Regions from separate parts of the Homo sapiens genome. Here region 1 is linked to region 2. Evidence: fine-mapped QTL for protein levels in blood plasma. A gene starts in region 2. The other region holds a variant in brackets. All regions are shown on one strand. Distances are from middle to middle.

What was found. PIP is the posterior inclusion probability: the model's chance that the variant is causal. Sun 2018 read protein levels with aptamers (SomaScan).
Region 1: its variant is fine-mapped to the plasma level of the NOG protein (Sun 2018, PIP 0.91).

The regions. Positions count from the first base shown.
Region 1 is chr17:56,775,384-56,780,759 of GRCh38, reverse strand. No RefSeq gene overlaps it. Among named protein-coding and RNA genes, the nearest start is that of C17orf67, 56 kb to the left of the region's middle. RefSeq lists a silencer at 220-459. The variant T/C (reference allele first, on the strand shown) is at 1,981.
Region 2 is chr17:56,588,583-56,593,948 of GRCh38, reverse strand. NOG (noggin) reads right to left here and starts at 250. Exons shown (of 1, transcript NM_005450.6): 1 at 1-250. RefSeq lists a silencer at 1,188-1,397.

The sequences.
Region 1 (5,376 bases), 190 kb before region 2:
CCCCCTTCCTTCCTCTCAGCCCTGTGTCACACTGGGACCCTGTCTGTCTTTCCCGTCACTCCTCAAGAGCAGAGGCACATGCCTGAGCAACAGCACAGAGGCACACTGCTTAAGGTTCTCAGGCATCTGTGTTCTCTGGAATTGGACAAGGAGAGCAGAAATTGCTTCTCTGGTTTGGAAGAGCAAATGGACATGGGGTGTATGTGCGCGCGTGCTTGCGTTGGGGCGGGCGGTGGAGACACAGCACCGGCCACACCCCCGCCAGTCCACACAGAGCTGCTCTGTGCAAAGAGCGACTTGACTGCGACTCTGGCCGCCCGGAGCGAGGGCGGGCGCGGGGGCTGCGAGGGCCCGGTCGGCCACTAGGGGTCAGTGTGTCTCCGCCGCAGGCGCCCGCGCGCCGCTTACCTGATTGGGGCAGGCGCCCGCTGACAGCTCTTGACAGTTTGCAACATTTCCTGCCTAACATTAAAAAAAAAAATTAATTAATGTATCTTTCTCCGTAGTAAAGAAGGGAGCCCAGACAACCGAAATAACAAGCCGGCTCTCTTTGCAGGAAAATGCAGAAGGCGGTTAAACCGTCCCGTCCTTCGCATTCCTGGGCTGGAGGAATAAGGATCCAATTGTGGTTTCTGCGCTGGTTATCTTGGTGCCGCCGAGGGGGCCACCGGGGAAAATCTGCTGAATTCTTCCTTTTCTATTTTCTGCCTCGGCGAGGAGGAGGGCGTTAATGCCGGTTGGCAGTTACATGAAACTGAGATGGATGGTAATGGGGTGTGTTAGCAAACAAGGGCAGGAAATAAAGTGTCATATTTTCTGGAGGGTGAACCGCTCCCCGGAGACAGAGCTGCACCAGGCGTCTGCAGAGGAGACACTTTGAAGGAAAAAAAAAAAAACCCTGTATAATCTCTCTCTCTCTTCACTTTCCTGTGCCTCCTTGGTGAGACATAAATTCAGTTTTATCCTCAGTCTAGCTAACAGGCAAATAACAGGGCACAAAAAAAGAAAAGAAAAACCCACTTGGATTTCTACTTCAATGTTCAGTACTTATTCTCTTGTCTCAAGCTGAGTCTGGAGGTAAAGAGAACTTCAGGACTTGGAGGCAGACTTCACAACATCAGAGCTACCTGCCTGGAATCTCGAACTGAGTGTCCCTGGAATCAACTGTGTGTGGTCATCAAGGCCCATCCCCAATCCTACCCACTTGGCAGATAGGAAGCCCTGAAGCTGCCTGCTTGCCGTTGCTTTGTACATGTGGGAAACACCCTCACCCCATTCCTGCATTCCCGTCACCCTCCTCCAAGGCACCCTCTCCGATTCTTTTTGCAAGGACTCAAGACTCCTACTGTCCTGGCAGCCTGCCTCCCCCACTGTCCCTTTCTCTGGAGGATGAGCTTTTTGAAAGCCTGGCTACTGTCTCATTCTTCTTTGTAGCCCTAGCACCTGGCACAGTTCCTAGTGCATTGTTAGGAGGTGCTTAATATATGTTTGTGAGTGAATATATGATATCCCGAACTCCTCTGCTAGAAATAAGGGCCGGTGCATACTGAACATATCATATCCCTGTCCTAAATGCTTTGCATGCTTTCTCTCATTTAATCCTTACATCAGCCCTGTGAGATAGGAACTAGAAATGACGTCATCATCGTCATCATCATCATCATCATCATCCCATTTTACAGATTGGAAAGTTTATCCTTAGCGGGGGCAACCGACTTGCCCACAGTTACAGAACCTGGCAACGGCAGAGCAGGAAGACAGACCCATCAGTCGATGCTTCAGACCTCTCTCTCCTTGGGCAGCGTCTAAATCCCTTGCATGGCATTTCACACTTACTAATTTATGTTACTGTAAATACATTGTGCTCTTGTTTGATCTCCTTGCAAAAATGTAAACTCCTTGAGGTCAGCACTGTGGCTATGGTTTCTCTGTGGCCCTCAAGAGAGAAAAGACCAAATTAGGGCAGTAGTCTGAGTCCTC[T/C]GGAAGTGGGCCTTTGGGTTTGTCTTTGCTTTGGACTGGATGGATCTCCATGGGGCCCGACTACTTCTGAACTGTGGAGTTTGAGTTCCTGGGTGAAAATTCCAACTCTACTGCTTGCTAAACTGGACTGTCACTTAAGCCTCTCTGGGTCTTGGTTTCCTCATTTGCAAAATGGGGGTAATAGTAGCCCCTACCTCTCAGAGGTATCATGAGGATGAAATGAATTAGTGTATTTGTTTTGAATGGTGCTTGGCACAAATCTCCACTAAGTGTTAGTGGTTCTTATTTTGAGACACTGGACACAGAATTTGCATTCTTTGCTGCCACTTGTGACCTGGATGTTTGTCCTTATTCAGTTCATCAAATGACTGTGGGCCTCATAACTCCCTCTTTCTCTTTTAAAAAGTCATTCTTCCATGAAAAACGAACAGTACACCAAACCAACAACCTTGCACGTTTGAGAAGACAAAGGAAGACAAACATTTGGCATCCCACCTTAGGCATTCACTTCTTGTTGCTTATTAACAATATATAAATCAACAAGGATATCCATATTAGGCTTGATACTCGATATATTTGGTATATGGCTGCTTTGAGTGGACACACGCTCACAATTAATGATGCCAGCCGGCTTCTCCGGATGGATATAAATACTCTAGGAAGAGAAACCCAAGACCAAAGGCTTGGGACACCCCACGCTGTCAGCACCAGCTCATGCTCTTCCTGTGGATGATGCAGCATGACCTGACACTTATTCCTTCCTGAGAGCTGGGTGAACCCACTACAGCCACATTTTTGTCAGTATTCCCAGTGGTGTCACGAGACACCACGTTCTCCAAGACCAAAATGCATACTGTTGAGTTTTCTTCAGAAAGTGGATGGAGAGGAAGACTCAGATCTCTTTGTGGGGGTGGGGACTCAGGCTGCTTGGGAGTGATTCTCACAGTTACCACTCAGTCTCCAAATATTTAGGAACCACTTGCTATATTCATGGACACAGTACTAGGTGTGGGGATATTGGTGGGTCCATCTCCATGGAGGATGCAGCCTAACGGGGAAAAATAATTACTGTTCTGCTGAGTGTTGGGAAGGAGAAGGAGAAGGCCAGTGTGCTCAGAGTGCTATGGAGTTTATATAGGGGTGAGGGGACCCTATTTTGGCCCAGAGATCAGGGAAGGCCTCCAGAGGATTGCTGTCTGGAATGAACAGCAGGTAGCTAGGCAGAGAGGAGGTGGAGTGTTCCAAGCTTGTGCTAGACCCTGAAATTGAACATGTGGAAGGTTTGAGAAAACAGAGAAAAGCCCTGCAGGGTTGGAGTGGAGAGAACAACAGGGAAGGGAGAGTGAGTTGAGGTGAGCTTGCAGAGATGGGGCAGGGGTGGGGTAGGCCATCCATAGCCTTGATTGATAGCCACAGTAAGGCTTTGAGGATTCATTACAAGGGTAATAGGATTCAGCAGAAGTATTTTAAACAAGGAGAAGAAGGTAATGAGATTTACATCTAAAAAATGCCTCTTGTACCTATCTGCAGTATGGAGCGGAGAGGGTTAGAGAGAAGCCAAGGCAGCATGGGAGATTAACTAGGAACCTCTGTAGTAGGTGGCGGGGAGAGATGAATGTGGCCTGGAGTAGGGTGGGAGGGGTCAGGGCAGAGAAGGTGGGTGGATTCTACAAACATTTAGGTGACAGAATTGATAGGATGTGGGAACAAGGGAGAAAGAGGAAGCACAGAAGACTTCCAGGTTTTGAGTTTGAACAGAAGAGTGGATGGTGGAAGGGAGTGGGTTTGGGGCAGAGCAGGTCATGTGTTCAATTGACATTGAGGTCCTAGTGAGATGTCCAGGGGCAGGTGTCAGGTAGGGTCTGGCATGCAGCTGATAGGCTGGGCTGGTCTTGTAGATTGTGAATCATTGGCTTATAGATGGTATTTAATGCCATGGAGTGGGTGAGGTCCCAACCGAGTGAGCAGGGCAGTGCTGGAATGGAGAAGGTGAATGGCGTTCCTGGAATTGGAGGGGCCATATAAGGGAAGACCACACATGGCGGGGTTAGGCTCTCCTACAGGATGATTTGGCATTTGTTTGGGAAACCAATCTTAGGTGGCAAACCATTTCTTATACTTTTATGTTTTTGGAAGAAATAGTAGTGACTTGAAATTTCAGCCACATGATGTATCTTCAGTCATTCTTAGCTTGCTTTGGGGAGTTGGCAGAACCTTGTTGAGGTCGAAAAGCCATAGGTCCTTTGCTGCTGCTTTGTTTTGCTGAAATTCTTCCCATGTGATCTTGTTGGAACAAGGACCTTTCTTGGGTGCTCCTCTCTGTCCTTTAGCCCATTATAGTACTTCCTAGGTAGCCTTTGGGGCAAGGCGAAAATTCCTGAAAAAAGCAAGTTTGTAAGGGCATCTTCTCTCAATTGATGTCCTGTCTGACTTGGTGTGTGTGTGTGTGTGTGTGTGTGTGTGTGTGTGTATATATATATATATAGTGTATTATACATATTTGTATATATGTTATGTATACTAATATAATAAATAATATATTAATATATATAATTTATTTAAGTAAATTAATATAACATGTAGTATTATATATAATAATATATAATATAATATTATATATATATAAAAATGGAGACAGAGTCTCACTCTATTGCTTAGGCTGAAGTGCAGTGGCAGGATGATAGCTCACTGCAGGCTTGAACTCCTGGGCTCAAGTGACACACCTGCCTCAGCCTCCCGAGTAGCTAGGACTACAGGTGCATGCCACCATGCCTGGCTAATTTTTAAATTTCTTTGTAGAGATAGGGAGCTCAATATGTTGCCCAGGTTAGTCTTGAACCCGTGGGCTCAAGGGGTCCTCCTGCCTCAGACTCCCGAGTGGCTGAGATTACAGGCGTGAGCCACCTCGCCCTGTCTGGATTAGGTATTAATTAGTGGGAAGAGCTGCTTTGGAAGGAGGAGTGCCCCTAAATTTAAATGGATGACCGAGCCTTCATCCTCTCACCTTTACACTCTCTCTGATTCCAACTTCCCAAATGTGTGTGAGGTGCTCTGCTGATGGCAGGGAGATAATGTTAAGTAGCAAACAGACATGGCATTAAATTACATTAAATCACAGAGTGATGAACTTACTTCATTTTTAATCCTGCTCTGAAAAGGAGAAAATTCCAGGATTTTTTAATGCTTACTTATCTCTCCTTTTTAACAAACAGTGAGCAGGCCCCTGGGGCCAGACGGAACCTCAGCCAGCACTGCTACCTAGTGATAGTTGTTTTATTTTCATCAATTTTTTATTTTTCCTTCACTTTATGGCAAGCGACGCTAGTTTGCTTTTACAATTGTAGTGCTGTTCACTGCATATTCCAGCCCCCTACTTTGTGGGGCTGTCTGTTGCCT
Region 2 (5,366 bases):
GACCGCGGGGCGCGGGAGGCGCCGGCTCCTCGCTGCCTTCCCGGGCCGGCGGCGGCGCAGGGCGCGTGGACGAGCCGCTCTCCCCTCCTCCTCTCGCTGCTCTTCGTCCGGCCGCTCTGTGCAAGCGCCGCTGGCTGAGCTGGTTCTAGGGGCACTTCCCTCCGCCTGCTCCGGGCTCCGCGGCCGGCTCTGCCCGGCGGACTCCAGCGGCGGCGGCGGCGGCGGCGTCCGCGCACGTTGGCACCGGTTTGTCTGTCTCGCAGGGTCCAAGCCTTTAAATTTCCTGCACTTTCAGCTCCATCACCATGGAAACCACTGACTCTCTCGGCGTTGCCCCCTCCCCCTTCTTCCCCCCAAACAACAACCCCACCCCCCACTTCTCCACCCCCGAGGAGCTGGAGCTGCACAGGCTCCGGGGGAAGCCGCCTGTACTCGCCGCGGAGGCGGCGGCGGCGGCTTCGGCAGCGCCCAGGGCTGTGCCCCGCCGGACCCAGATGCCCCGGGAAGCCGACAGTCCGGCTGCCCGCCGGAGCTCACAGGCGGCGGCGGCGGCGGCGGCAGCGGCGGTGGCGGCGGCGGTGGCGCTTGGCAGGTCTCCGCGCAATTTTCTCTCTCCCCCACCACCCACCCCCCTTCTCCTCCTCCTGCAAAATGCACCGCCCCCCTCCTTTCTCCTGGAGCAATGCAACTGGGGCTCTAGGCGCCCCGCCAGGGCCAGTCCTGGGGAAAGCTCGCGGCGGCGCTGGAGCCGGGCTGGAGGGTGCAGAGCCGGTGTTTGGGGAGGGGGGGCGGTGCTTGAGGTGGGGCTGGAGGGTTTCTCACTAGCTGGGTGCTTTGCACTGGGAGGGGAGCAGCGGGGAAGTGCTGGGGGCTCGTTTCTCGGTGCATGCAGTTCGGAGCAAGAAATTTCTCCATGTGCATGGAGCGTTTTCCCCGAGCGCGTCTTCTTCTCTCCCGGGCTCTTGCTCTAAGTCCCCTCCCCCCAACACACATATATACACACACACACACACACACACACACAGCCCCTACCCCACCCCCCTTTGCACCAGGGAGTCCGAGAGCCGCAGCGTTGCGCAGCGTGATGTAATTCTTAGGAAGCACTCCTGTCTGTCTGCCCCTCGGGCCCACGAGGGGGTTCCGCTCCTCACCATCCTCCTCCTCCTTGGCCGGGTCCTGCACCCTGAGTGGCCTAGCCTCAGGGGCGCGACTGGCTCGCCTGCGGCTCCCCTAGCCCGCCCGGCTCCGCGCGGCCGCCGCTCGGCTCCCTGGGGGCGGCGCGCCCTCTGCTGGCCCGCTATGAGCCCTGCACCTGGCGCTGGCGGGGGCGGCCGTGCGAGGTGGGTCGGCCGCTGCCCGCTCTGCCCAGTTCAGCTTCTGCTTCTGTGTCCCTGTCACTTTGTGTGTGTCTGCGTCTGCTGACTGGTCCGTTTTGGTTCTGGCTATTTTCCCGAAGGTCTCCAGGCCCCCAGTGTAAACAAACTTCCTGAGATTCCTTCTCGGTCCCCTCAAATTTCACAAGAATGCGTGCAGCACCTTCTGCCTCAGGTAAATCGGTCTCTGGTCTCAGTGGGTGCGAGTGGGGACCAGAAACTTGAAAGGTGAGCTGACAGCAGAGGCACCTGAGTCTTGCCCGGGGTCCACCCTGATATAACTCGGACAAGTCATTTTTCTCACTTTTCGCATTAGTGACGTAACTATTAATAGATTTCTCTTCCAGCCCTACCTTTCTGTGATTTTAAATAAACCTCCACGATGCTTTCTCTTGTTCAGAAGCAGTTTCTCTTTGATGGGAGATGGGTACTGAAGGGACACCTCCGGTTAATTTCCCCTTGGACGAGGAACTCAATCTCAGCTTTAAAATGCAAACTCAGTTTTCTTTGTGGTGAATGTGATTGGAATCTGGAAAAAGCTGGAGAAGAGAGACTTGGAGTGGATGACTCAAGTATTTGCCAGTCTTCCATGGAGTGGGAGTTAAGAGGTCCCATTGTGACAACCTAAATCGCTTAACTTTCTTTCCCCAAAGATCTGGTTTTTCCTTTCAACCTGCCCCACCCCAACTCCCAAAGTTTATCATCTGTCTAAGGAAGAAAACACTTTGTTGCATACTACAGTCTTTCTGCAAAACCTCTATTAAAAGGGGTGGGCAGTTTCCGCTGAAAGCGTTTCCCTCAATTTTAAAGTCTAGACAACTAGAATTAGACTATCAAGGGACTGCTCAAAAGGAGATCTTGCTTTGATGGATACTGGAGTTAACAACAACCCATTGGTTGTTTGAATTGGGCTGACTTTGAAATAATGTGTGATTAGAACCTGGTACAGGCCGGGCACGGTGGCTCATGCCTGTAATACCAGCACTTTGGGAGGCTGAGGCAGGCGGATCACTTGAGGTCAGGAGTTGGAAACCAGCCTGCCCAACATGCTGAAACCCTGTCTCTACTAAAAATACAAAAAAAAAAAAAAAAAAAAAAAATTAGCTGGGCGTGGTGGCAGGCTCCTGTAATCCCAAGTACTTGGGAGGCCGAGGCACGAGAATCACTTGAACCTGGGAGGCAAAGGTTGCAGTGAGTTGAGATTGCACCACTGTACTCCAGCCTGAATAACAGAGTGAGACTCTGTTCCCACCTCCCCAACTCCTCCCCCTCCAAAAAAAGAACCTAGCACATAGTAGGCTCCTAAGCATACCTCTTTCTTTTTTATGTGCTTTATGGGGATTCAGCACTAGTTTGTTTCCTTATGAAGATTACATGTTCCAGAGCAATTTTGTCACTGATGTGAATTAACTAAGAAAATTATTTAGTGGAGTTCAAGGGCTAAACTCTAGCTCAGCCCTCCTGAGATGGTAGGTTCCAATTAATGACATTATATCATGCTGGTTTCTGTTCTTTTAATCCCCCTCTTCTCTCCTTCAAATCACCTATTTTTGCTTGAAAACCAACCCAGATCCTTTATTTAGTTGGGCTGAGCAGATTTGACTGAACAGCAAAAAAGGTCCCTCAGGAACCAGAAACAAATCATGCTTGAGAACAGATTGGGTGACCTGTTTATGGAGTATCTACTGGGTGAAGACCATCAGGAAAAATACAAAGAAGAAAAAATTCATAGTCAGTCTCCATCCTGCAAGACTTTTGTAGTACAGTTAGGGGAGATATGACAACCACAAGAAGAAATAGTAAAAGGACATCAGAAAAATTTATAAATTCCCATAACAGTGTGGACTAGTTTTTTATAACCTTTTCTTTTTAAAATCCATGTCCCCTTTTGATAGATATAACAATATCATGCTCTTCTTTGAATGTTGTTTAAAGTTTTTAAAATACATTATTATAACCAAAAAGAAGCCCAAGCAATTATGTTAGCTATACTGTTTTCAAACCATATCTACCCCTCTTCAATGTGAAGTTCTGAAATGCCACATTTGGGAAGCTTGCAACTCCTAACTCTGTGCCACACTGGAGTAGCCCATGCGCTTAGGTACTGAGTGAACCTGGGGATGTTGGTATCAGAGACTAGGAAGTACTAAGACCTTAATGGTAGAGCTGAATTTTAGCTGAGCTTCATGAAGAAGGATGTATTTATCTGAGTATGGAGAGGAAGAGATTTGAGAGATAGGATATACATCTACATGAAGAAGGGAACCACACTTGTATGAGGGACAGCCAGAAAATCTGGGGATATGAGAGGTGGAAGAGGAAATGTCCCAGACAGGGAAGCACCACGACTTTTGGACCAGGTGGATTTAAGTTGGAATTCTGGCTGTGCCCCTCACCGGCTGTGTTACCTTTTTAAAACAGTCATCTTAACCACCCCGTTTCCATTCTCTCATCTGTAAGATGGGGATGATACACACCTCTCAGAATCATGCCACGTAAAAGAGGTAAGGAATGCCTAGCCTAGTAAGGTGCCTGGGGCAGAGCCTATATCGGGCAATGGTTTTACAACACGTTACTTCTTCAGAGAACCCCACTGCCCTCAACTGGCCAACCATCTCAGGTTTGAGCAGAAGAGGGTTGAAGGGGTGAGGATGCTGCTGAAATCAACTCCAACACCTTTGGACTTGCTTTCTGTCCACTCCATCTGTGCAACTTGAGGGCTGCCAGGCTTCAGGAGTTTGAGGGAGGGAGGACTGTAGTTTCTTAGGAGATTCTGTAGTCAACCCATTTTGATGCTTCTGTGGTTCTGTTGAAGAGGGAGCTTGACAAAACTGGACAAAGAGGGTTGTATTTCTTGCAAAGGAAGCTGTGGGCGGAAGATGGGCCAATGGAAGTACGGCTATCAGCTTGACTCTCGCTGTGGGCGGTGCTTGGACTGTAGTGGGGCTTGGTTGGGGACTTAGGCCTCAGGAGGCTACATAGGAAGAGTTAATGAACAACATAAATGGAGGCCTGTCCCTGGGTAGCCCCATCCCAGGTTTCTGTCCCTGCAAAATTCTCTGGGCAAGGTAAATGGAAGCACTCCTTTAAACAGTCGCTGGGGCAACTCCAGGTCAAAGGCAAGAGGAGCCTGAGGGTGCTTTTATGTATCTTCTCTTATTTCTATCATGATTCGAAGAACAACTTGACAATCTTCTTGCTTCTTTGGCCCTGGAAACATAGACCTAAGGCAACTGTGGGTGACGCCTAAAGGGCATGGGGCTTGAGGTCAGAAAACTTGCAATCTACCAGCTGTGCGACCTTGGGTGAGACACTCTACCTTTCAAGGACCATGAGACGTCCTTGGAGAATGCATGAGAACTGCCATCTTTTACAGCTGGTGTCATCCCAGGCATTGAAATTCTCTACCCTCTGTTTCTGACAATCTCTTGGGACCCATAAATATAGAATCTGATGGGCTTTCTCTTAATGAGACCCCAAAATGGCATTCTTGGGCTTGACTTAAGTTAGCAAAGGGAGACCAAGTCAGCCATGAGGCTTGTCACATATCTCTCTTGACTGCCAGAAGGTGACAGTAGAGGTGGCACTGAGGTCAGAGGGTGGTGAACTCCATGTAGCCTCCTGGGTGCTGGGGAGCCCTGGCCAGTTCAGAACTCACAGTGAGGGTAGAAAGAACCCAGTTCAGCTTCACAGGGCATTATAATTGTGTGTGTGTGTGTGTCCCATTGGTGGTTAGATTCTGGTGAGAAGTAACTAAAATGGGCATGCTGGGCAAAAGAGGGAAACTAGGAGAGAAAGAGGAGGGAGAGAGTGGGAAATCACTCTAAAACGTGGTCTGGGGTGGGAACGTGGGCAAATACATGTGAAATACATTTCCCAAAATAGAGACGAAGTTTAAGACCAAAGGAGGAAAGGAGCTTCAGCGAGCTTATTCCAGCCCCGACAGCCCCTTCCCTTCCTCAGTCTGGCTCCTGCTCCGCCTGTAGCCCCCTC